Linked DNA regions of Homo sapiens. The protein of the gene in region 4 purifies or fractionates together with the protein of the main gene of each other region. This does not show direct contact. Each region holds a gene or a part of one and is shown on either strand. Other genes may lie near its edges. The genes, in order: DNASE2B, HELLS, WDR7, UGGT2, PARN, SERPINA4 and CELA3A.

Region 1 (3,500 bases), on a different chromosome or scaffold from region 4:
TGTGAATTACAGCAGAAAGTATGGACACACCAAAGGTATGACAAAGATTCTTGGTTTCTCTTTCCTACTGGAAATCAACAATTTCTTAAATATTTCATCTTGAGTATCCTTATATTCCATACTAAATAGATAGCCTTTCTTCTTAATAGTTTATTTGAGTTATTGAAATGTATGACTTCTATATCACTGGTTATAATATAATTATATGATTTGACTTGGCAATCTCATTTTTAGAAATCCCATTTTATTTCTTAACATATTTTAAAATATTTGCTTTGCAGCAGCAGGAATCCAGGTACTGATACTGAGGACACACACACACACCAGCAATTTTATATATATATATATATATATGCACATGAATATGTATATATGTATATGTGCATGTAGTATATATGTACAAACACATTTTAGTCAGATTTATTGAAGTATGATTTATAGAGAGTAAAACGAGCTCTTCTTAACATACAGTTCCCTTGGAAATATACATTTTTGAAAAAGTATTTTAAATAGCTTTTTATATTAATTTTTATCATGTTATTTACATTATCACATATAATTTTTATTATCCTTTCACAATTTTTTTATTTCTAAACTTTGCATATGTGTTTGTGAACTACAGAAAAATTCAAAATACAGGTAAACAAAAAAATCTATAATCCTAATGCCCATTAGATAAACCATATTTAATCCTTTCTACTTTTTCTAAAATACATATTTTAAAACATTTTTACAAAACTACTGTAATGACTATTTTTCAACCTTTTTTCAATTTCATATATCATAAATAACTTTCCATGGCAACAAGTATTCAGAAGATTCCAAATTCAAATGCCTTCAAGGGAGCAGGCAAATGATGTCAGCAAGTGAAAGGAGGCAGTTACTATTCAACTTGCCTGATACGGACACAATTTTCCAGGAGATGTTGAAAATTAATATTTGTGGAAAAACTCCCCAGTTTTTAAATGTTGGCACTAAATTCAAAGTTTAAAAAATACTCTGCAAGCGCAATAAAATGTATCCACAGGCTGGATTTGGCTCAGAGGATGTCAGTTTGCAGCCTCTGATTTAGAATATAGTTTGTAATGGCTGACAAAGGTCATGAACTTTGAAAGCTTTTTATTTAGCAAAGTTGCTCTCCTGAATACCCTATTTACTGGGAACCCAACAATTTTCATAACATGCTACATTCTTCAACCTCTCCTCCAACAATCTCCCACACTATTCCTGCTCTACCCTGCTAACTGCCACAAGGCTTTGGGGAAATGGCTCTAAAGAAGTAGGGCACAATATCAAGTGGAGGGGTTCTCTTGGCCAACAGATGCCCTAATATCCTATGGCATTTGTACCAGGAGGATAGGATTCCAGCAAATTGGCACACTCATCTGCACAGAGGATAACTCTTGAAGGTTATCCAGTTCTGTTACACACAGAACTTTCAATATTTTCCACCTTGACACAGGTATTGATTCTATTTCCACCCAAAGAACAACAGTATGCTTTCTTAAAATAGGCACTTTGAAAAAAAAATAACTAGAAGGCATTTGGTTTTTAATCTAACACTTAGGCAAACACGAGTGAATCTTATGTTTGCATAGTCATATGCAAACTGGAAAGTCTAGCTATCATACCAAACCTACCATGATAAATTTCTAAACACAAAAATAGTCAGATGTCTGTTTTACAAAGTTCTTTTTGGTATGTCACAAAATGATAAAAATCTTTCTATTTTCTTCCTTATTGGCTTTCAAGTTGTTTATTTTGCTCTAGAGATTTTTACAAACGTAATTAACTAGGATGCTTTAGCACAGCTTCCTTTTTGTCTCTTTGCTTCTTTTATTGGGCTTGTAGAAATAGTGACTCTTCTGCCAATAAATGGGCAGCAGTTTTTTATAACAAATTATTGTGAGTACATTTCTTCATTTGATATTTTCTCTTTCAACTCTGTTTTTTAGTCAGCTTTTGAAAAGAGCCTAGCTGCTTAGCAGTGAAGACACTATCTAAATCTTGCTAGGTGACTGTATAGTTTAACAAGGTCCAATTCCAATTTAGCAAATTTGCATTCTGCCAAAACAAATTTTCCTTGTGATTTCAAAATGAAATTCCTCTTAACTCTTCACAGGATGGCTACCTTGGTTCCCTTTTCGTGGTGGCTTTTTATCAGTAATCAGGCAATGTGATATGTGCCAGAATTGTATTTGAAATCTTTGAAAAATAAGCATGATCCTTGTGATTATTAGCCTAATAAAACACTAGTCTGAAGCATAAATGGGCTTAAATGTTGCCACTGTGAACCCTATTATAAAAGAAGCTTTGTTTTTCTGATTTATCTTTGTTAAATGTGTCTTTGGTAGGTTTACTGCTGTGGAACAGAGTTCAAGGGTTCTGGCTGATTCATTCCATCCCTCAGTTTCCTCCAATTCCGGAAGAAGGCTATGATTATCCACCCACAGGGAGACGAAATGGACAAAGTGGCATCTGCATAACTTTCAAGTACAACCAGTATGAGGCAATAGGTAAAACTAAAGTATGTGAGAAAAAAAACGATAACTATGTTGAAGAAATGATTTGGAAATATATTCATAAATGTGTCACTTCATTTGTTAATCTATTCATAGACCCTCTGATACCTAGATTCTAATACTGGCTTTGCCATGGTGAGGTCTTGGGCAGGCTCGCTTACTGGGCTTTGGCTCTTAATCTACCAGTGCAGTTGTTGAACTTGATCAGGGCAGTAGTTTCAAATGTATTCAGGGGCCTGGTAGATAACATATATGAGTGAAACAGACATGTTACATGGGAAGTGAGGATAGTGATGAACTGGGGTGTTGACTCACCTAGCTTCCCTTAAAGCCTCAGTTCCATCATACTGTGGCTCTACAGGAATACAAGCCTAATGATTACAGATCTCCTTATTTCTCATGAAGTACCAGAAACCTAGGGTGTGTGTGTGTGTGTGTGTGTGTGTGTGTGTGTGTGTGTGTGTGTGTGTGTGTGTGTCAGAGAGAGAGAGAGAGAGAGAGAAACTGATTTCCAAATATGAGTTCAATCTTAATTTTGTTTTTGAAGTTTTCCAGGCCACATGTTCCTTGTAGGCCACAAACATGACACCTCTGAGCCAGATAATCTCCTTTTAAGATTTCAAGCTCAGCGAAAAATTCTTAGATTTGGCAAACTGTGGTGGGAAAGGAGAAGTAGGGACAGGTTGGTAGCTAAATAGTAGTGAAAAGCAACTTGCCTATAGAAACAGGAGATTTAGAAAATGTTTCTCATCAAATTTCCATCTTATGGCAAGGATCACTGAGCTCCTCACCCAAGTCAAGCTCTAGTCTCACTAGTTGAAATCATGTAATGATGCCGAATATCACAGAGATTAGGCATGCACACTGAGGAGATGATGATTCTTAAAGCTTTTTGGTACATGGAGTTCTCAACTTTTGTATATGTATATGTACATTTAGAAGAAAAAATATATGGTCTCCAAGGCCAAATTACCTGGG
Region 2 (2,406 bases), on a different chromosome or scaffold from region 4:
TCAGCCTTCTGAGTAGCTGGGATTATAGGCACATGCCTCCATGCCCCGCTAATTTTTTCTATTTTAGTAGAGACAGGGTTTCACCGTGTTGCCCAGGCTGGTCTCTAACTCCTGAGCTCAGGCAATCCACCTGCCTCAGCCTCCCAAAGTGATAGGATTATAGGCATGAGCCACCACACCCAGCCATCATTCTGGGATTTTAATTAGAAGAAAAATTCAAGAATATAAGTTAGTTTTGGGGACCACTGACTTACACTTTGTAGTAACCATTCATATCCACAAATACAGCTAAATCTGCATGTTTACTCAGTCTTTCTATTAACGTCCTTCAATGTTTCATAATTCTGTCCTTATATAAACATGTTAAAAATTGTTAAACTTTAATTGTAGGCATGTTAATTTTGTAGCTGTTGTAAAAACCTTCATTATTAAACAATTATTGCTGTTACACATATTATTAATAAGCAATCTTCTTAAATTCTATTTTAAAAGATTCTGGATTCCCTTGGACTTCCTATGAAGATAATCAAACCAGACCACTTGCAAATAAAAGCAGTTTCGATAATGCCAGCACTTTAGGAGGATGAGGCAGACAGATCACTTGAGCCCAGGAGTGTGAGACCAGCTTGAGCAACATGGCAAACCCCTGTCTCTACAAAATACACAAAACAAAATTAGCAGGACATAGTAATCACACCTGCAGTCCCAGCAACTTGGGAGGCTGAGGTGTGGGGATTGATTGAGCCCAGCAGGTTAAAGCTGCAGTGAGCCATGATCACACCACTGAACTCCAGCCTCGGTGACAGAACGAGACTTTGTCTCAAATAAAAAAAAATTATGAAGATGATTACGATATTATGGCAAGTTGGTTTTTGGTATCTAATTAGGTGATCATCTAGTTCTCCATTATTTAATTGATATGAATTATATTATCAGATGTTAAACAGTCCTTACATGCCTCACATAATGTTGTTTTTTAATATAGTTTAGATTTGACCATGATGCTGTATGTCTCATATTTCTCCCTAAACTATTTCAAAGTTAAAACTCAAATAAACATGCAAATAATCCAGAATATCTAAAACAATTTTGAAAAAGAACAAAACTAGAGAAAGTACACTTCCCATAAAGCTACCTTAATTAAATCAGTGCGATACTGGCATAGGAATACCACAGAGATCAATGGGACAGAATTGAGAATACAGAAATAAATCCTTATATTTATGATCAAATTATTTGCATCAAGGATGACAAGGCCATCCAATAGAAAAAGGATCATCTTTTTAACAAATTAATATTGACATGCAAAAAGATGAAAATTCATTGAAAATAGATCATAGATCTAAATGTAAGAGCAAAAACTATAAAACTATTAAAAGAAAATATCAACACCTTGAATTAGGCAAAGAGTAGTTACAGATGACATAAAAATCATGAGTGAACAGAAAAAAATTTGTTAAAATTGAAATTCATTAAAATTTAAAACTTTTGCTCTTCAGAAGATACTAAGTAAGTAAGTGAAGAGACAGGCCAGAGTAGAAGAAAATGTTTGGAAAATACATCTGATTAAAAAAAAAAAAAAAAAAACTTCCAACCAATATATTTTATTTTGATTCAATAAGACACAGAATTGAATTTTAAAATGAACAACATATTTGAAAATAAGATATCATGACACTGTAGCCAGTGCCACGCAGGTAAATGTTTAACAATTGGGTCTCAAAAAAAACAAAAACTGAGGCACAATGGCTCATGCCTATAATCCCAGCTTACTCCAAAGGCTGAGGCTGGAGGATCCCTTGAGCCCAGGACTTTTAGGCTGCAATGAGCTATAGTCGCACTCCTGCATTCTAGCCAGGAATACAAAGCAAGACCCTTTTTTGTTAAAAACAAAGACTGGGGTTTCTAGTTTCTGCCTGTATCCGTGATATGAATGTTACTGCCATCACCAATTTCAAAAGACCAAAATGTCACGGAATACAGTTGGGAAAAAAAGATTATACAGTATCTCCACCATACAGATGCAACAGACAAATAATCAATAGCCTAGACGACAGTAATATGTTGTAAAATAATTAGGAAATTATGAAGTACAAAATATTATTTTTGTTTTCAAAATAATTCATGGTCATCACTGTAGGCATCAGATCATAAGGTGGTATTCTAAAAACTGATAAAAAAAAAAAAAAGAAGCAATATATCCTGGCTCTCTTCTATCTCAGGGAAACTGTAAGGGAAAGTTCTTAAATAACCCAGCTAATAAAAGAATGACAGAACAAGAAAAATCACCATTTTGCAATGATTAAGTTAATAATGGTTCTTATCAGCCACTTTCAAGGGATACTAAAAATCACCACGTTAGGCTTGGTGCAGTGGCTCATGCCTGTAATCCCAGTGCTTTGGGAG
Region 3 (3,500 bases), on a different chromosome or scaffold from region 4:
AATCCACACCTCCAGATATCAGGTATCTTTGATCATACCGAGCTGAGACCTGATGAGGATATAGCAAACATGTGACTTTGTTCCGATGACCACGGAGTGTTCTGTGAGGTGGCCAACCTGTGAATGAGGGTTTGGATTTAAAATGGGAAAATTAAAGGTTTACCAAGTTTCAGTAAGTAAAAGTAAACATGAATGTTTAGAATAGCTACAAATTATATCACAGCAAAGGCTTCCAATTTTATCTTCTAACACAACTCTGCCTAATTCAGTATCTACTAGCCACATGAGACTACTGAGCACTTGAAATGGGGGTAATCCAGATTCCTATGTGCTGTGAATTTAAACTAGTCATGAGATTTTGAAGAGTTGATACAAAAAACCTAAAATATTTCATCAACAATCTTCATATTGATTAGAAGTTGAAATGAAAATAGTTTTTGCTATATTGGGTTATATAAAATATAGTCAATTTCAACTGTTTCATTTTATTTTTTAACACAGCTATTAGGAAATTACAGGTATGGTTATATATATATGGTTGACATTCGATTTCCACTGGCTGTTGAGAGGCCGAGGCAGGCAGATCACTTGAGGTCAGGAGTTCGAGACCAGCCTGGCCAACATGGTGAAACTGTCCCTACAAAAAATACAAAAATTAGCTGGGTGTGGTGGCACATGCCTATAATCCCAGCTACTTGGGGGGCTGTGCAGGAGAACTGCTTGAACTCAGGAGGCAGAGATTGTAGTGAGCCGAGATCATGCCACTGCACTCTAGTCTGAGCAACACAGTGAGACTCTTTCTCGGAAAAAAAAAAAAAAAAGATTTCTATTGGATGGTACTGTTCTGGAGGATTTTCAGAATTACTGGTAATACAGTAATTATTTAGTAATCCATAGAGATAACTAAGAGATGAAACTATTAACATATCTCAAAGAGATAAAATTGGATACTTCTTTATTTACAGTCATTACATTGTATTAATTCTAATAACAGGCACTGAATATTTTATCTGTGCATTAAACTCTACCAACTACATAGCACCCCAACAACTAACTACACTGATTCACTGTATTTATTTAAAAACAAAAAACAGAGACATTTTCACTCTCTGGGTAAGAGTTGTCAAAACACTTTAGACATACGGAGCTCTTCAGTATACCTCTTCTGAGCATGTGTTCCCCTTGCAACAGCTGTACTATGGCCGTCTGTGTGGCAGGTACAATAACTATGCTTCCATCTTCACGACCACAAACAAGTCGTCCATGTGCTGGTATGTACACACTTGCAGTTACTTTAAGAGGTTCATTACTATTGGGAATCACACTCAGCTGATCTATAATTCCAGCAGGACAAGGATTCAGTTTATCAAATGCCTCTTGCAAACTAATAGAAGTTGTCATTGCCAGCCCTGTAGAGGTTTGGTTTTGTATAAAAGAAAAACATTTGTGCATGTTAAAAAAAATTTAAAACATTAAAATAATGTTGATTGATCCAGTAATCAAAGAAAATGATATATGTACATTATGAATGTTATTCAGTAGTTGGTATTTAAGATATTAAATTAATTAAGAAATTGTTACACATGATTTACTATTACCTTCTTCACTTCCCTGTTTATCAGCTGTGTCTGATATGTTCCAAATATTCAACCTTCCAGAAGAATCACCCTGAATTAACAGTTTATGGAAATATTCTCTGCATCCATAGAAGAACCGAGTAACAGGAGGACAAATTAGCAACTGCCAAAAAAAGTATTTGAATATCTTTAGCTGTATTTTTAATCAAAATATTTCACACATTAATGCTTTTCAAACAAAGATATTAGGTAATTTGTCCCAGTAGCCAAGTTGAAAAAGTGTTTATAGCATGATTATTCAACAATATTTTAATGTAATTCTATAGCACTAACATACATGTCAACTAATATTCTAATCTAGTATAACACACACATTGAATGAAACAAAAACTGTATTTACAGCCTTTCTCTAAAGTTAGCATTTATGCTACTTTTCACCACTTTATAATAACTCATGTGTAGCCACAATAATGCAATTTAACTGCCTATTATTAAATAATTAACACATAGCTAAGCTTTATCAAAAAGAAAAGTCTTCACTTAAAAGGTCAAGATGAGAGAACTCACTATTCCTGCTTTTTTTGCCCACTCCTGATTAATCATTAAGAATAGCAACAAAATTAGGGAACAGTGGCTCATGCTTGTAATCCCAACAATGACACGGAAGATCGCTTGAGGCCAGGAGTCAGAGACCGGCCCTGGACAACTAAGCGAAATCCTGTCTCTACAGGAAAAAAAAAAAAACTTAGCCCAGCATGGTGGCACAGGCTCATAGCTCCAGGTATTCAGGAGGCTGTGGTGGGAGCATCACTTGAGTCCAGGAGTTTGAAGCTACAGTGAACTATCATTTCGCTACTGCACTCCAGCCTGGATGACACAGCAAGACCTTGCCTCAAAAAAACAAAAAGTAGGCTGGCCACAGTGGCTCATGCCTGTAATGCCAGCACTTTGGGAGGCTGCAGCGGGCAGATCACTTGAGGCCAAAAGTTCAAGACCAGCCTGGCCAACATGGTGAAACCCTGTCTCTAATAAAAATACAAAAATTAGCCAGGTGTGGTGGTGCGTGCCTGTAATCCCAGCTACTCGGGAGGCTGAGGCAGGAGAATCGCTTGAACCCAGGAAGCAAAGGTTGCAGTGAGCCGAGATCACACCACTGCACTCCAGCCTGGGAGTCAAAGGGCGACTCCATCTCAAAAAAAAAAAAAAAACAAAAAAAAAAACCAACAAAATTGAACTATCAAGCTTGTGCAACTAGAGGACCCCATTGTTAAAATTAGTATATTTTTCAACTAATAGCATATCATGTTTTACTTGCTCATATTTTCATAATCAATTTGAACCTAGCCTCTGTTAGCTACCAGCTACCAGGAACAAAAACCATTCATTAGGATCTTATGTGTACTTTCATTTTCAGCTCAAGATTTTGTGCCTTCAATGAAGTACTATCTGAAAATACTAAATAGTGTGGTGGACTTCTACTAAAATTCGGAGGATTACTTCACAAATACTGGAATATTAAAGAACAGAATCTTAGCCTGAAAAGCAATATTAAATTTGACTTCAGTTTTGACAATTATAGTTAATAGTCTAATTACTGTATTCAAATACTGGTTAATCAAATACAGTAATTAACAGCTAAAAGCATTAGCCAATGGAAACTACACATATTAAGCATAACCAATCGTTTGACTTTACTTACTGAATTTTTTTTGCTTTTGAGACAGGGTCTCGCCATGTTGCCCAGGCTGGAGTGCAGTGGCACGATCACAGCTCACTGCAGCCTCCACCTCCCAGCTCAAAGGATCTTCCCACTTCAGCCTCCCAAGTAGCTGGGACTACAGGCGTGTACCACCACACCATGCTAATTTTTTTTTTTGTAGAGATGGGGTCTCACTATGTCGCCCAGACTAAAATTTTTAATTG
Region 4 (3,500 bases):
GCAGCAGTGAGGCTGGGGGAGGGGCACCCGCCATTGCTGAGGTTTGAGTAGGTAAACAAAGCAGTCTGGAAGCTTGAACTGGGTGGAGCCCACCACAGCTCCAGGAGGCCTGCCTGCCTCTGTAGACTCCACCTCTGGGGGTCAGGGCATAACTGAACAAAAGGCAGCAGAAACTTCTGCACACTTATATGTCCCTGTCTGACAGCTTTGAAGAGAGTGGTGCTTCTCCCAGCACGGAGTTTGAGATCTGAGAACAGACAGACTGCCTCCTCAAGTGGATCCCTGAACCCCAAGTAGCCTAATGGGGAGGCACTTCCCAGTAGGGGCCGACTGACACCTCATACAGCCGGGTGCCCCTCTGAGACGAAGCTTCCAGAGGAACAATAAGACAGCAACATTTGCCGTTCTGCAATATTTGCTGTTCTGCAGCCTCTGCTGTAGATACCCAGGCAAACAGGGTCTGGAGTGGACCTCCAGCAAACTCCAACAGACCTGCAGCTGAGGGTCCTGACTGTTAGAAGTAAAACTAACAAACAGAAAGGACATCCACACCAAAATCCCATCTGTACGTCACCATCATCAAAGACCAAAGGTAGATAAAACCACAAAGATGGGGAGAAACCAGAGCAGAAAAGCTGCAAATTCTAAAAATCAGAGTGCCTCTTCTCCTCCAAAGGAACGCAGCTCCTTGCTATGTGAGAGAGACACACATAGGCTCAAAATAAAGGGATGGAGGAAGATCTACCAAGCAAATGGGAAACAAAAAAAAGCAGGGGTTGCAATCCTAGTCTCTGATAAAACAGACTTTAAACCAACAAAGATCAGAAGAGACAAAGAAGGCCATTACATAATGGTAAAGGGATTAATTCAACAAGAAGAGCTAACTATCCTAAATACATATGCACCCAATACAGGAGCAACTAGATTCATAAAGCAAGTCCTTAGAGACCTAGAAAGAGATTTAGACTCCCACACAATAATAATGGGAGACTTTAACACCCCACTGTCAACATTAGACAGATCAACGAGACAGAAAGTTAACAAGGATATCCAGGAATTGAACTCAGCTCTGCACCAAGCAGACCTAATAGACATCTACAGAACTCTCCACCCCAAATCAACAGAATATACGTTCTTCTCAGCACCACACCGCACTTATTCCAAAATTGACCACATAGTTGCAAGTAAAGGACTCCTCAGCAAATGTAAAAGAAGAGAAATTATAACATACTGTCTCTCAGACAACAGCAATCAAACTAGAACTCAAGATTAAGAAATTCACTCATAACCACTCAACTACATGAAAACTGAACAACCTGCTCCTGAATGACTACTGGGTACATAACAAAATGAAGGCAGAAATAAAGCTGTTCTTTGAAACCAATAAGAACAAAGACACAACATACCAGAATCTCTGGGACACATTTAAAGCAGTGTGTAGAGGGAAATTTATAGCACTAAATGTCCACAAGAGAAAGCAGGAAAGATCTAAAATTGACACCCTAACATCAAATTAAAAGAACTAGAGAAGCAGGAGCAACCACATTCAAAAGCTAGCAGAAGGCAAGAAATAACTAAGATCAGAGCAAAACTGAAGGAGATAGAGACACAAGAAAACCATTCAAAAAAATATCAATGAATTCAGGAGCTGGTTTTTTGAAAAGATCAACAAAATTGATAGACCGCTAGCAAGACTAATAAAGAAGAAAAGAGAAGAATCAAATAGATGCAATAAAAAATGATAAAGGGGATATCACTACCAATCCCACAGAAATCCAAACTACCATCAGAGAATACTATAAACACCTCTACGCAAATAAACTAGAAAATCTAGAAGAAATGGATAAATTCCTGTACACATACACCCTCCCAAGACTAAACCAGGAAGAAGTTGAATCCCTGAATACACCAATAACAGGCTCTGAAATTGAGGCAATAATAGCCTACCAAACAAAAAAAGTCCAGGACCAGACAGATTCACAGCCAAATTGTACCAAAGGTACAAAGAGGAGCTGGTACCATTCTTTCTTAAACTATTCCAATTGATACAAAAAAAGGGAATCCTCCCTAACTCATTTTATAAGGCCAGCATCATCCTGATACCAAAGCCTGGCAGAGACACAACAAAAAAAGAGAATTTTAGACCAATATCCCTGATGAACATCAATGCAAAAACCTCAATAAAATACTGGCAAACCAAATCCAGCAGCATCTCAAAAAGCTTATCCACCATGATCAAGTGGGCTTCATCCCTGGGATGCAAGGCTGTTTCAACATATGCAAATCAATAAACATAATTCATCATATAAACAGAACCAAAGACAAAAACCACATGATTATCTTAATAGATGCAGAAAAGGCCTTTGACAAAATTCAACAGCCCTTCATGCTAAAAACTCTCAAATTAGGTATTGATGGGACATATCTCAAAATAATAAGAGCTATTTATGACAAATCTGCAGCCAATATCATACTGAATGGGCAAAATCTGGAAGCATTCCCTTTGAAAACTGGCACAAGACAAGGATGCCCTCTCTCACCACTCCTATTCAACACAGTGTTGGAAGTTCTGGCCAGGGCAATCAGGCAGGAGAAAGAAATAAAGGGTATTCAATTAGGAAAAGAGGAAGTCAAATTGTCCCTGTTGGCAGATGATATGATTGTATATTTAGAAAACCCCATCATCTCAGCCCAAAATCTCCTTAAGCTGATAAGCAACTTCAGCAAAGTCTCAGGATACAAAATCAATGTACAAAAATCACAAGCATTGCTCTATGCCAATAACAGACAAACAGAGGGCCAAATCATGAGTGAACTCCCATTCACAATTGCTTCAAAGAGAATAAAATACCTAGGAATCCAACTTACAAGGGATGTGAAGGACCTCTTCAAAGAGAACTACAAACCACTGCTCAAAAAAATAAAAGAGGACACAAACAAATGGAAGAATATTCCATGCTCATGGATAGGAAGAATCAGTATCGTGAAAACGGCCATACTGCCCAAGGTAATTTATAGATTCAATGCCATCCCCATCAAGCTACCAATGACTTTCTTCACAAAATTGGAAAAAACTACTTTAAAGTTCATATGGATACAAAAGAGAGCTCGCATTGCCAAGACAATCCTAAGCAAAAAGAACAAAGCTGGAGGCATCACGCTACCTGACTTCAAACTATACTATAAGGCTACAGTAACCAAAACACCATGGTACTGGTGCCAAAATAGAGATATAGACCAATGGAACAGAGCAGAGCCCTCAGAAATAATACCACACATCTACAACCATCTGATCTTTGACAAATCTGACAAAAACAAGAAATGGGGAAAGGATTCCCTATTTAATAAATGGTGCTGGAAAAACTGGCTAGCCATATGTAGAAAGCTGAAACTGGATCCCTTCCTTACACCTTATACAAAAATTAATTCAAGATGGACTAAAGACTTAAATGTTAGATCTAAAACCATAAAAACTCTAGAAGAAAACCTAGGCAATACCA
Region 5 (3,500 bases), on a different chromosome or scaffold from region 4:
CTTGACTCACCGCAACCTCTGCCTCCCAGGTTCAAGCGATTCTCCTGCCTCAGCCTCCAGAGTAGCTGGGATTACAGGCATGTGCCACCACGCCCGGCTAATTTTGTATTTTTAGTAGAGACAGGGTTTCTCCATGTTGGTCAGGCTGGTCTTGAACTCACGACCTCAGGTGATCTGCCCGCCTTGGCCTCCCAAAGTTCTGGGATTACAGGCGTGAGCCACCGCGCCCCGTCCCCATGGATTTTAATACCACCCGTGTCCCAATGATAACTAAATGTATATCTCAACACCTTTCTCTTGAGCTATAGGCTTGTAACTGCAGCTTTTAATTTGTGTATTCCCTTAGATGATTTAACATGTCCGTGGTAGGGCGCGGTGGCTCACGCCTGTAATCTCAGCACTTTTAGAGGCTGAGATGGGCAGATGACCTGAGGTCAGGAGTTCAAGATCAGCCTGGCCAACATGTTGAAACCTTGTCTCTACTAAAATACAAAAATTAGCTGGGTATGGTGGCGGGCGCCTGTAATCCCAGCAACTTGGGAGGCTGAGGCGGGAGAATTGCCTGAACCCGAGAGGTGGCGGTTGCAGTGAGCCGAGATCGTGCCATTGCACTCCAGCCTGGGTGACAGAGCAAGACTTCGTTCTAAAAAGAAAAAAAAGAAAAAAAAATAGTATGTCCAAAAGGTAGCTTTTGATTTTCACTCCTTGGACCCCGATACCTATTTTTCCCCTCATTGTCTTCACATCAGTTAGTGGCCCTACCATCTTCCCAATCGCTTGAACCAAATAGCAAGGTGTTTTTTTTATTTTTATTTTTATTTTTTTTTGAGACAGTGTCACACCGTCGCCAGGCTGAAGTGCGGTGGCACGATCTCGGCTCACTGTAACCTCTGCCTCCTGTGTTCAAGTGATTCTCCTGCCTTAGCCTCCCAAGTAGCTGGGACTACAGGCACACACCACCATGCCCAGCTAATTTTTGTATTTTTAGTAGAGACGGGGTTTCACCATGTTGGCCAGGCTGGTCTCCATCTTTTGAACTTGTGATCCGCCCGCCTCGGCCTCTCAAAGTGGTTGGATTATAGGCGTGAGCCACCATGCCCGGCCGCAAGGTGTTACTCTTGATTTTGCCTTTCCCTTTATCCTTCATCTCCAGGATATCAGTAAGTGTTACGTCTTATGTCTAGAAAATCACTGTCTCCTTCTACCCTGCCATCTCTACACCAGGGTTACAAACAAGAGCCCACTGCTGGCTCCTTGTTTTGTAAATAAGATTTGTTGGACTACAGCTATGCCCGTACATGTACATTTTGTGTATGGCTGCTTTTGTGCCACAACAGCAGGGTTGAGTATTGCGACAGAGACCCCCATTGCCCACAAGCCTAAAACATTTGCCATCGAGCCCTTTAAGAAAGAGTTTGCTGGCCGTGCGCGGTGGCCGTGGCTCCCGCCTGTAATCCCAGCACTTTGGAAGGCTGAGGCAGGCGGTGAGGTCTGGAGTTCGAAACCAGCCTGGCCAACATAGCGAAACCCTGTCTCTACCGAAAATACAAAAATTAGCCTGGTGTGATGGTGCACGCTTGTAATTCCAGCTACTCGGGAGGCTGAGACAGAAGAATTGCTTGAACCTGGGAGGCAGAGGTTGCAGTGAGCTCATATTGTGCCATTGCATGCCAGCCTGGGTGACAGAGTAAGACTGTCTCACAACAAAACAAAACAAAGAAAAAGTTTGCTGACCTCTGATCTGAGCTCTTGTCTCTTGCCTGGACAATTGCTCCTGACTTGTTTCCTAACTTCACTCTCAGAGTAGTCATCATGGCCTTTGAAACATTATGCAGGTAAGGTAATTATCTTGCTTAAAATCTTCTAATGTTGTCCAGCCACTGTTAGAATAATGTACATTTCTTACACTGGCCTGTGAGGGCCTGCAGAATCTTGCTCCATACTCTCTCCAATGTGATGCTGTACCATTCCATTTTTGCTCATGACATCTGGCCACACCAGCTCCTTGCTGCTCCTGGAACCGTCCAAGCCATTTCCATGTTCTGGGTATTAATACTTGTTTCCCCTACCCGAAGGACTCTTCCCCTAGCTCCTTTCGTATCCGACTTATTCTCATCCTTTGGGTTTTCCCTGACTTTCCTGATTTTCTTGTCAGAAGTAGTTCCCTTCACTACAGAGCAGGATGCATCAGCTTGTCACTGTTCATTCCCCAGTGCCTAATATAATGCTTTGGCACAGCATAAGTGCCAGATAAATATTTCTTGAAAGAAGACTGAATGAATGGATGAATGATAAACACATTTCAAAATCATTTGCCTTTCTGTTCATTTTTTGAGATGTAGTTAAATATGGTAAATCTTTCCTGAGTAATTTAGACTCTTTGGTTTGTTAAACAAATTTTATGTTAGACAGTTACTTCTGCTAATGCATTCTTTTTAAAATCGTGTTTAGGAATTCCATATTTAAATCAGGAAGAAGAAAGACAGTTAAGAGAGCAGTATGATGAAAAACGTTCACAGGCGAATGGTGCAGGAGCTCTGTCCTATGTATCTCCTAACACTTCAAAATGTCCTGTCACGATTCCTGAGGATCAAAAGAAGTTTATTGACCAAGTGGTGTAAGTTCCTAAATTAAAACTAAGCGTGCATTGTGTGCTATATATTGGGGATGACAGGCATCTATATCTCAAACCTGTGCTTTACAAACATAGTACACACACGGGTGTGATGTTGTGAATGGCAGGATATAATTGTGGCATATTAAAAAAAAAATTTTTTTTTTTTTTTTTTTGAGACAGTCTTGCTCTTTTGCCCAGGCTGGAGTGCATTGGTGCAATCCTGGCTTACTGCAACCTCTGCCTCCTAGGTTCAAGCAATTCTTGTGCCTCAGCCTCCAGAGTAGCTGGGATTATAGGCGTGCACCACCACACCCGCCTAATTTTTATATTTTTAGTAGAGACGAGGTTTTGCCATGTTGGCCACGCTGGTCTCGAACTCCTGGCCTCAAGTGATCTGCCCGCCTCAGCCTCTCAAAGTGTTGAGATTACAGGCATGAGCCAGCATGCCTAGCCGGCATATTCAAATTAGTGTAACAGCAACAAATTGTAAATAGAGTTCCATGTATTGTACTTGGACTTGCTACATGTCACTAGGCAAGAGATTTCAGTACGTGGTCAGACCTGCGTGGATTTTTTATTTTATTTTATTTTTTTTAATAGAGACGGATCTCACTATGTTTCCCAGGCTGGTGTCAAACTCCTGAGCTCAAGGGATCTTCCTGCCTCAGCCTCCCAGAGCGCTGGGATTACAGGCGTGAGCCATTGTCCAGCCCCTTTTCTTGTTTTTTAAATGCTAATCAGCTGACTTCTAAAACTTGCATGGACTGAATACCTGACAGCCACTGTCCAATGTCCTTGAAGGCAGAGGAGTGGATCAGGCTTATCCAGCCTGTAGCATGTCCATGTTCTCTTTGCTTGCAGTAAAGGTGCCGACAAGCAGATG
Region 6 (2,982 bases), on a different chromosome or scaffold from region 4:
CATATTTTAAATATAACAGGAGAGTTCATCATTTAAAGGAAGCCCATGGAAGTTCTCAGAGCAAGTGAGAATTCTCTCATAATTTGGTGTTCACTCTCTATTTTGGGGCACTGTCTTTCATTAGAAAGTTACATTTGATGGATAGTACTGTAGATTCAGCCCCCATAGCACACTGATTACCTCTTCCGCAACAAGTTGTTCCACCTCATTAGCATCTCTGGAGTCAGAACCTCTTCAATCTCCCTCATTTTGCCTTGGTTAGGGAGAATGAAAAACACGGTTGCGTCTCCTTTGTAATCCATCCGTAGCACCGAGCAGGGCAAGTATCTGTCATGAAGATACCAGTGATGCTCCTGGTCCTGCAGCATCATGGGCACCCGGACTGTTGTGTTCTCATCAACATAGAAGTCTTTGGGAGTGGTCCTTGAGGAAATGAATGGTTTCTCCCACAGGGCTGAAGGGAAGATGAAAAGAAGGTACAGGACATCTGCAGGCCACAGAGCTAGTCCTCCAGCCAGGGAATGCCATCTGGTGTTCTGAGCTACAGAAACAGTCGCTCCAGATCCTGCCCTATGAGCCCATCAAGATGTCCCATTTTGACCATTCAAAACCTGACATGCCTGGGGAATGGATCCTTTAGGCCTCATTTAAATTTTAAAATGAGAGATAGCAGAGGATGTTCGTTTTCTAATATGTGAGTAGGATTGATAGAGAAGAAACAAGGGGTGCTGGAAAGAGAGTTTCATTGTTAGGTGAGCATCCTTGAGAAGGAGAGAGGAGATGGCAGAGTGTGAGCAGAGGGGTCAGCCTTCCATAAGAGGTGGGTCACTACTGCCATGATGAGAGGAGGGCATCTGAGCTTGTGGGTTCAAATGCAGGGAGGCGAGTAGATTTGGAGGTGAGAAGATTTGGAGGTGAGTAGATTTGGAGGTGAGAAGATGAGAGATTTCCTGTTTAACTGATTCTGTTTTCTCAATGAAAAGTGAGACAAGATTGTTAAGTGAAAGTCATGAGTGGGGAGGACATTTGAGAAGGACGAATCTGTTATTATAGTTGTTTTGGAGAGTGGAGATATGTAGGTAGGATTGCTGGACAGTGTAGAGATATCAATGAAAATTTGCATTCACAAATATCAAGTGAGACCATCAGCCCCGTTGGATGTTTTTCTTCAACCACATTCAGCTGCTGGGTGCAGATGTAGACTAGTTAGACCTTTAGGTTTAAGCAGGTTTGCAGCTTTGGAGGGTAAGTATGATAGAGGGAGGGAAAACCAAGGAAGTTAAGAGTTCAGAGTGTTTGCAAGGAAGTGACCACAATGATGGCCATGGAATCGCTGCAGTGTGAGGAGGGAAGCAAATACAGGAGGCGATGTGCAGTGAGGTGGTGGCAGGTAGGGTGAATGGACTAAGGCCTCCATGCCAGGAATTTTAGTCCAGGGAATAGCAAGGGATCTGGGATTCTAACCAATGTCTTCCTGACAGTGAAACCCATACTACTGTTTCTCTTCCTTCCTTAGTTAATTTTTTTTTTAAAGTTTAAAAGTTTTGTTATTTCAAAGCAAAACTTTTTTTTGGAGATAGAGTCTCATTCTGTCACCCAGACCAGAGTGTGGTGGCAAAATCTCAGCAACCTCCACTTCCTGGGTTCAAGCGATTCTCCTGCCTCAGCCTCCCAAGTGGCTGGGATTACAGGCATGTGCCATGAAGCCTGGCTAATTTTTTTTTTTTTTTTTGTATTTTTAGTAGAGACAGGGTTTTGCCATGTTGGCCGGGCTGGTCTTGAACTTCTGATTTCAATATCCACCTGCCTTGGCCTCCCAAAGTGCTGGAATTACAGGTGTGAGCCACTATGCCCAGCCTCAAAACAAAGCTTTTTTAAAAAAACTTTTCAATGGTTCATGAAAATTCCACATGCAAATTACATGGGATGACTAATTTGGCTGAATCATTAGGCTGGGAGTTGCTCCCTAGAATTTTGTTCCCTGTAGATTTTGGGTTCAAGCTGGTTAGAACTGTGAGATTTCGAAGTAGATTGCCCTCTGAAGGCCCTGGTAGTCAGATATGATGATGGTCAGACTCAGCAGTGCTCTGTGTGCTCCAGTTTGCCCTGCTTGTCTCCAAGCTCATTTCCCAAGTCTAACCCCACTAAACAACAGCAGCCCCAGGCTACCACAGAAACTATGCAGTGATGCTCCCCTCCATGGCAGCACTCTGATGGCTGGTTGAGCCTGGCATATAGATTCCCCTCTAAGCTCTGACTTGTCCGCTTACATTGGCAACTTTCTCTCTGTCCTTCCAACTCTTCTTTCCTCTAGACCTTCACTTTCCCAGTCGCAATTGTGTGGGGCCTAATTCCTATAATGATCTCCTTACCATTGACTTGAGGTGGCTCTCCTTCTCTGATGAAACCCTGGCTAATACACACCGTACAAAGTTGTTTGCACACTGCAAAATCAACTGTGTGGACATATATGTGTGTGAATGGAAGGTGAAGAAAAGATGCTAAAACATTAACATTTGTTGCCTCTGAGTGGTAGGACTAGAGATTATGTCTACTTTCTCCTTTATGCTTTTACATATTTTTAAAGCTTCAAAATGAGCATTGTTATCATTAGATGAATTATAGTTGCTATTTATTGAGTACATAAAATGGTCAGGGGTCAACAAACCAAAAGGTTTATAGAGATATTAACTATTTTAGGCATTGCAGATCATTCAATCTCTGCAGTAATGAATCAACCTGCCATTGTAGCATGAAGTCAGCCACAGACAATACATAAATGAATGGGCCTGGCTGTGTGCCAATAAAACTTTATTTACAAAACCAGTGGCTGAACACATTTGGCCCATGGGCTGTAGTTTGCCCATCTCTTTAGACCCTTTTCTAAGGAGTATATACATGGGTTAATCATTTGATCCTCAAAGCCAACCTTTGAATTAGAGACTTGTCTTATCCCTGCTTTGAGCAAACAAGCTGACCTGT
Region 7 (3,500 bases), on a different chromosome or scaffold from region 4:
AAAAGAGACAACGTCTTGCTGTGTCGCCAGGCTTGGGTGCAGTGGCAAAAATCATAGCCACTGTGAGCTTGAACTCCCAGGCTCAAACAATCCTCCCACCTCAGCCTATCAAGTAGTTGGGACTACAGGCGAGTGCCACCATGCCTGACTAAGTAAAAAAAGTTTTTCTGTAGATGGGCATCTCACTATATTACCTAGGCTGGTCTCAAACTCCTAGCCTCAAGCAATCCTCCCACCTCAGCCTCCCAAAGCACTTGGATTATAGGCAGGAGGGACTGTGCCCAGAACAATGATGGTATTCTTAATGGTTAATTATAACTTTAGAACCACAGAATTGACCTGCGTTAGAGGTCATGGGACCAGTATCTCCTGCTGTGCTGATGCGGAAGCCTGAGGACCAGGGAGACACAGTGACTTGTCCCAAGTCATGTCAGTGTGTGAGCTGAGACTGCAACCCGGGGGTCCTGACTCCCAGGCCTGGGCTCTGTGTCTGGACTGCGCTGATTTCCTCCAAGTCCTGCCTGGCCTGGAGGCTGAATGGGGCAAGCAGGCAAGATCCTTCCTCCACCTTCCAGGCAGTTGGCCCCATTCCAAGGTCCTGCACACCCAGCACCACCTCGGGCAGGTAAGAGCTGACTCACGTTGCAGCCGGAGCGGATGTACCCTCCAGCACACACCATGGTTTTCTTCACGGTGGAACCCCACCAGTTCCACCTGGAGCAGTGCTTATAGTCCACCACGGGCAGCCGGGCCTGCTGCAGCTTGTCTGGGAGTGGCCCATTGGCTGCAAGGATAAAAAGCACCGAGTCAGGGGTCTGGGGGCACACCGCTAGGTGCCCCAGAGGAAGGGGGCATTCAAGGCCCACAGTTCTTCTGCCCTGATGAGGACTCTCCTCCCACCCGCTAAATGGTCCTGCATGCTTTGTGCACCATTACATCCCTAGCACGTGGCACACAGAAGATACCAAAACATGTGCAATTGACCACATTCGTGTTTTGGAGGTTGATGGAAGAAGGCTGCAGCTGGAGAGAAATGGGAGAAAAGTACAAGGTCCGGTCTTGGTGTTACCTTCAACCTGCAGCCCCCAGGCCCTGTCTTTCTGCCACTGTCTCTGTGGCCAGCTAGAGAAGTCAGCACGTACTATAGAGACGGCCCCAGCCGGTGATGTAGCAGGGTGTCTTGTTGGGAAGGATGTCACCAGCGGGAGGGAGTGAGGCGAGCTGGACGGCATCTCCCAGCTGGGCGCTGCGTGAGAGCTTGATGAGGGCGATGTCATTGCTGGGGAGGAGGGAACAGTCACGGGGCCTGGTCCTCCAGCCGGCCCAAGTCCTACCTTCTAGCCGTTGCTCCAGGCTATTCCACCTCTGAGATGCCCCAACTTCTTTACCCTCCAAATCCACTCTTTCATCATCATTATTATTATTATTATTATTATTATTGAGACAGAGTCTCGGTCTGTTGCCCAGGCTGGAGTGCAGTGTCACAATCATAGCTCACTGCAGCCTCCTGGGCCAAGGGATCCTCCTGCTTTCACCTCCTGAAGTGCTGGAATTACAGGCATGAGCCACTATACCTGGCCCAAATCGTTCTTAAGGCTGAGGAATTTTATTTATTCATTTATTTATTTTTGAGTCAGAGTCTCGCTCTGTTGCCCAGGCTGGAGTGCAGTGGCATGATCTTGGCTCACTGCAGCCTCCGCCTCCCGAGTTCAAGTGATTCTCCTGCCTCAGCCTTTCCAGTAGCTGGGATTACAGGCTCATGCCACCACGCCTGGCTAATATTTGTTAAGATTTTTTCATACACTTGAAAGGCATAAGATTGTCTCCTTGGCCTTCACACCACCCAGGAAGCCCAACTTCATGGTCACCTTTTGACAAATGGCAAAACTAAGGCCCAGAGAAGGCCAGTGACTTGCTCAGGCCATACACAGAGTTAATGCCAGAGCCTGACTCTCAGCCCAGTGCTCCTCCTTTTGCCCATAGTGCTGGGAGCCCAGGATGCACTGGGTGAGCCATCTATTGAATGGAGAAACCCTCGGATATGGGGGAAGGATGCCAGAGGAACCCTGAGCTCTGAAGCCACTAGCCAAGTGGCCTTGGCAGAGTTCCTGCCCCTCCCTGAACACTGCCATCCCCTCTGTAGGGAGACAGGTTTGGTGGTGATGGTCCTTAAAGGCTCTGCTGGCTTCAATCCTCAGTGTGTGGGACCTGGGCACAGGCTGCTGGACTCAGCTCCCCTGTCCCTATGTCCCTATGTCCCTACGTCCCTACTCAGAGTTGGAGCCTACTCAGACTTGGCTGTGGGTCATGGAGGGACAAGTAGAGGAGCCCCTGGGTTCCAGACCGGAGCATTCACTCACCCACAGGCCACACACGAGCGGTTCCAGAGTGGATGCACAAACAGCTCCTCAGAGTTGATGGGGATCACCTGCTCGGGGCCCTCCTTCACAGCAAGGTTGTACTCACCCAACACCACCTGGTAGGTCAGATCCCTCCTGCAGGCAGAGGTGAGGTCAGTCGGGGCCTGACTGGCTCACCTCCCTCCTTCCCCATCATCACCCACTCTCCCCCGCTGCCCAGGGCCACAGGCAGGGACAGGGTAGAGAACTCACGAGATGCAGTGGCCGGCAGTCACAACCCAATCGGGGGCGATGAGGCTACCGCCACACGTGTGGTAGAAGCTTCCACTTTTCTCATACTGCAGGGAAACCTGGTGGCCCAGGAGGAAAGGGCCTCAGTGGGCTGGGCCCCACCATGAGAGTTGCCACCAATGGCTGTATAGGTTGTGCACTGTGCAACTCTAGAGGGCGCCATTCACATGGAAAACGAGAGCACCCACTGAAATATGCAGCATACAACCTGCGACCTGGGCAGCTGCCCGTGGTGGCCCTATCACTTTTCCATGGGGGTCACATTCTGATTCTCCAAAGCCTCCCCACACCAGCACTATGACCTCCCTGGGGACCCCAACATTCTCTACCTTCTGTCTCTTAACAGCCCTTGAAGGCCCTCTGTTCTATCACGCACCCCTCGCCCTGTGAGTTTTTTTTTTTTTTGAGATGGAGTTTTGCTCTTGTTCCCCAGGCTGGAGTGCAATGGTGGCAATCTCAGCTCATTTCAACCTCCGCCTCCCGGGTTCAAGCGATTCTCCTGTCTCAGCCTCCACAGTAACCGGGATTACAGGCACCTGCCGTCGTGCCTGGCTAATTTTGTATTTTTAGTAGACACGGAGTTTCACCATGTTGGCCAGGCTGGTCTCGAGCTCCTCACCTCAGGTGATCTGCCCACCTCGGCCTCCCGAAGTGCTGGGATTACAGGCGTGAGCCACCGCGCCCAGCCCCCCTGACTCTTTTGAACCTCAGCTCTTTCAAGGCCTCTTGAGCCTTCTGAAGCACAGCTCACCCTGATGAGTTCTTTGCCTCTCTTCCCATTTCCTACACATTCTGATTTTCAAAAGCTCCATCTAGACCAGGGTTAGCAAACTGTGGACAGTGGGGCAC

What was found.
Region 1: the proteins of UGGT2 (region 4) and DNASE2B purify together in Homo sapiens (co-immunoprecipitation; one large-scale study listed by IntAct). This does not show direct contact.
Region 2: the proteins of UGGT2 (region 4) and HELLS purify together in Homo sapiens (affinity purification with mass spectrometry; one large-scale study listed by BioGRID and IntAct). This does not show direct contact.
Region 3: the proteins of UGGT2 (region 4) and WDR7 purify together in Homo sapiens (affinity purification with mass spectrometry; one large-scale study listed by BioGRID and IntAct). This does not show direct contact.
Region 5: the proteins of UGGT2 (region 4) and PARN purify together in Homo sapiens (affinity purification with mass spectrometry; one large-scale study listed by BioGRID and IntAct). This does not show direct contact.
Region 6: the proteins of UGGT2 (region 4) and SERPINA4 purify together in Homo sapiens (co-immunoprecipitation; one large-scale study listed by IntAct). This does not show direct contact.
Region 7: the proteins of UGGT2 (region 4) and CELA3A purify together in Homo sapiens (co-immunoprecipitation; one large-scale study listed by IntAct). This does not show direct contact.

The regions. Positions count from the first base shown.
Region 1 is NC_000001.11:84,408,484-84,411,983, forward strand, and holds part of DNASE2B (deoxyribonuclease-2-beta isoform 1 precursor), read left to right. Parts: coding exon 1-35; intron 36-2,354; coding exon 2,355-2,516; exon of another isoform or gene 2,517-2,527; intron 2,528-3,500. UniProt on the Homo sapiens protein: Hydrolyzes DNA under acidic conditions. Does not require divalent cations for activity. Participates in the degradation of nuclear DNA during lens cell differentiation.
Region 2 is NC_000010.11:94,597,788-94,600,193, reverse strand, and holds part of HELLS (lymphoid-specific helicase), read right to left. Parts: intron 1-2,406. UniProt on the Homo sapiens protein: Plays an essential role in normal development and survival. Involved in regulation of the expansion or survival of lymphoid cells. Required for de novo or maintenance DNA methylation. May control silencing of the imprinted CDKN1C gene through DNA methylation.
Region 3 is NC_000018.10:56,692,859-56,696,358, reverse strand, and holds part of WDR7 (WD repeat-containing protein 7), read right to left. Parts: intron 1,741-3,500; coding exon 1,599-1,740; intron 1,410-1,598; coding exon 1,161-1,409; intron 118-1,160; coding exon 1-117.
Region 4 is NC_000013.11:96,046,902-96,050,401, forward strand, and holds part of UGGT2 (UDP-glucose:glycoprotein glucosyltransferase 2 precursor), read right to left. Parts: intron 1-3,500. UniProt on the Homo sapiens protein: Recognizes glycoproteins with minor folding defects. Reglucosylates single N-glycans near the misfolded part of the protein, thus providing quality control for protein folding in the endoplasmic reticulum.
Region 5 is NC_000016.10:14,609,761-14,613,260, reverse strand, and holds part of PARN (poly(A)-specific ribonuclease PARN), read left to right. Parts: intron 1-2,451; coding exon 2,452-2,617; intron 2,618-3,500. UniProt on the Homo sapiens protein: 3'-exoribonuclease that has a preference for poly(A) tails of mRNAs, thereby efficiently degrading poly(A) tails.
Region 6 is NC_000014.9:94,564,442-94,567,423, reverse strand, and holds part of SERPINA4 (kallistatin isoform 2 precursor), read right to left. Parts: intron 455-2,982; coding exon 181-454; intron 1-180. UniProt on the Homo sapiens protein: Inhibits human amidolytic and kininogenase activities of tissue kallikrein.
Region 7 is NC_000001.11:22,004,657-22,008,156, reverse strand, and holds part of CELA3A (chymotrypsin-like elastase family member 3A preproprotein), read right to left. Parts: intron 2,711-3,500; coding exon 2,613-2,710; intron 2,496-2,612; coding exon 2,361-2,495; intron 1,280-2,360; coding exon 1,143-1,279; intron 785-1,142; coding exon 642-784; intron 1-641. UniProt on the Homo sapiens protein: Efficient protease with alanine specificity but only little elastolytic activity.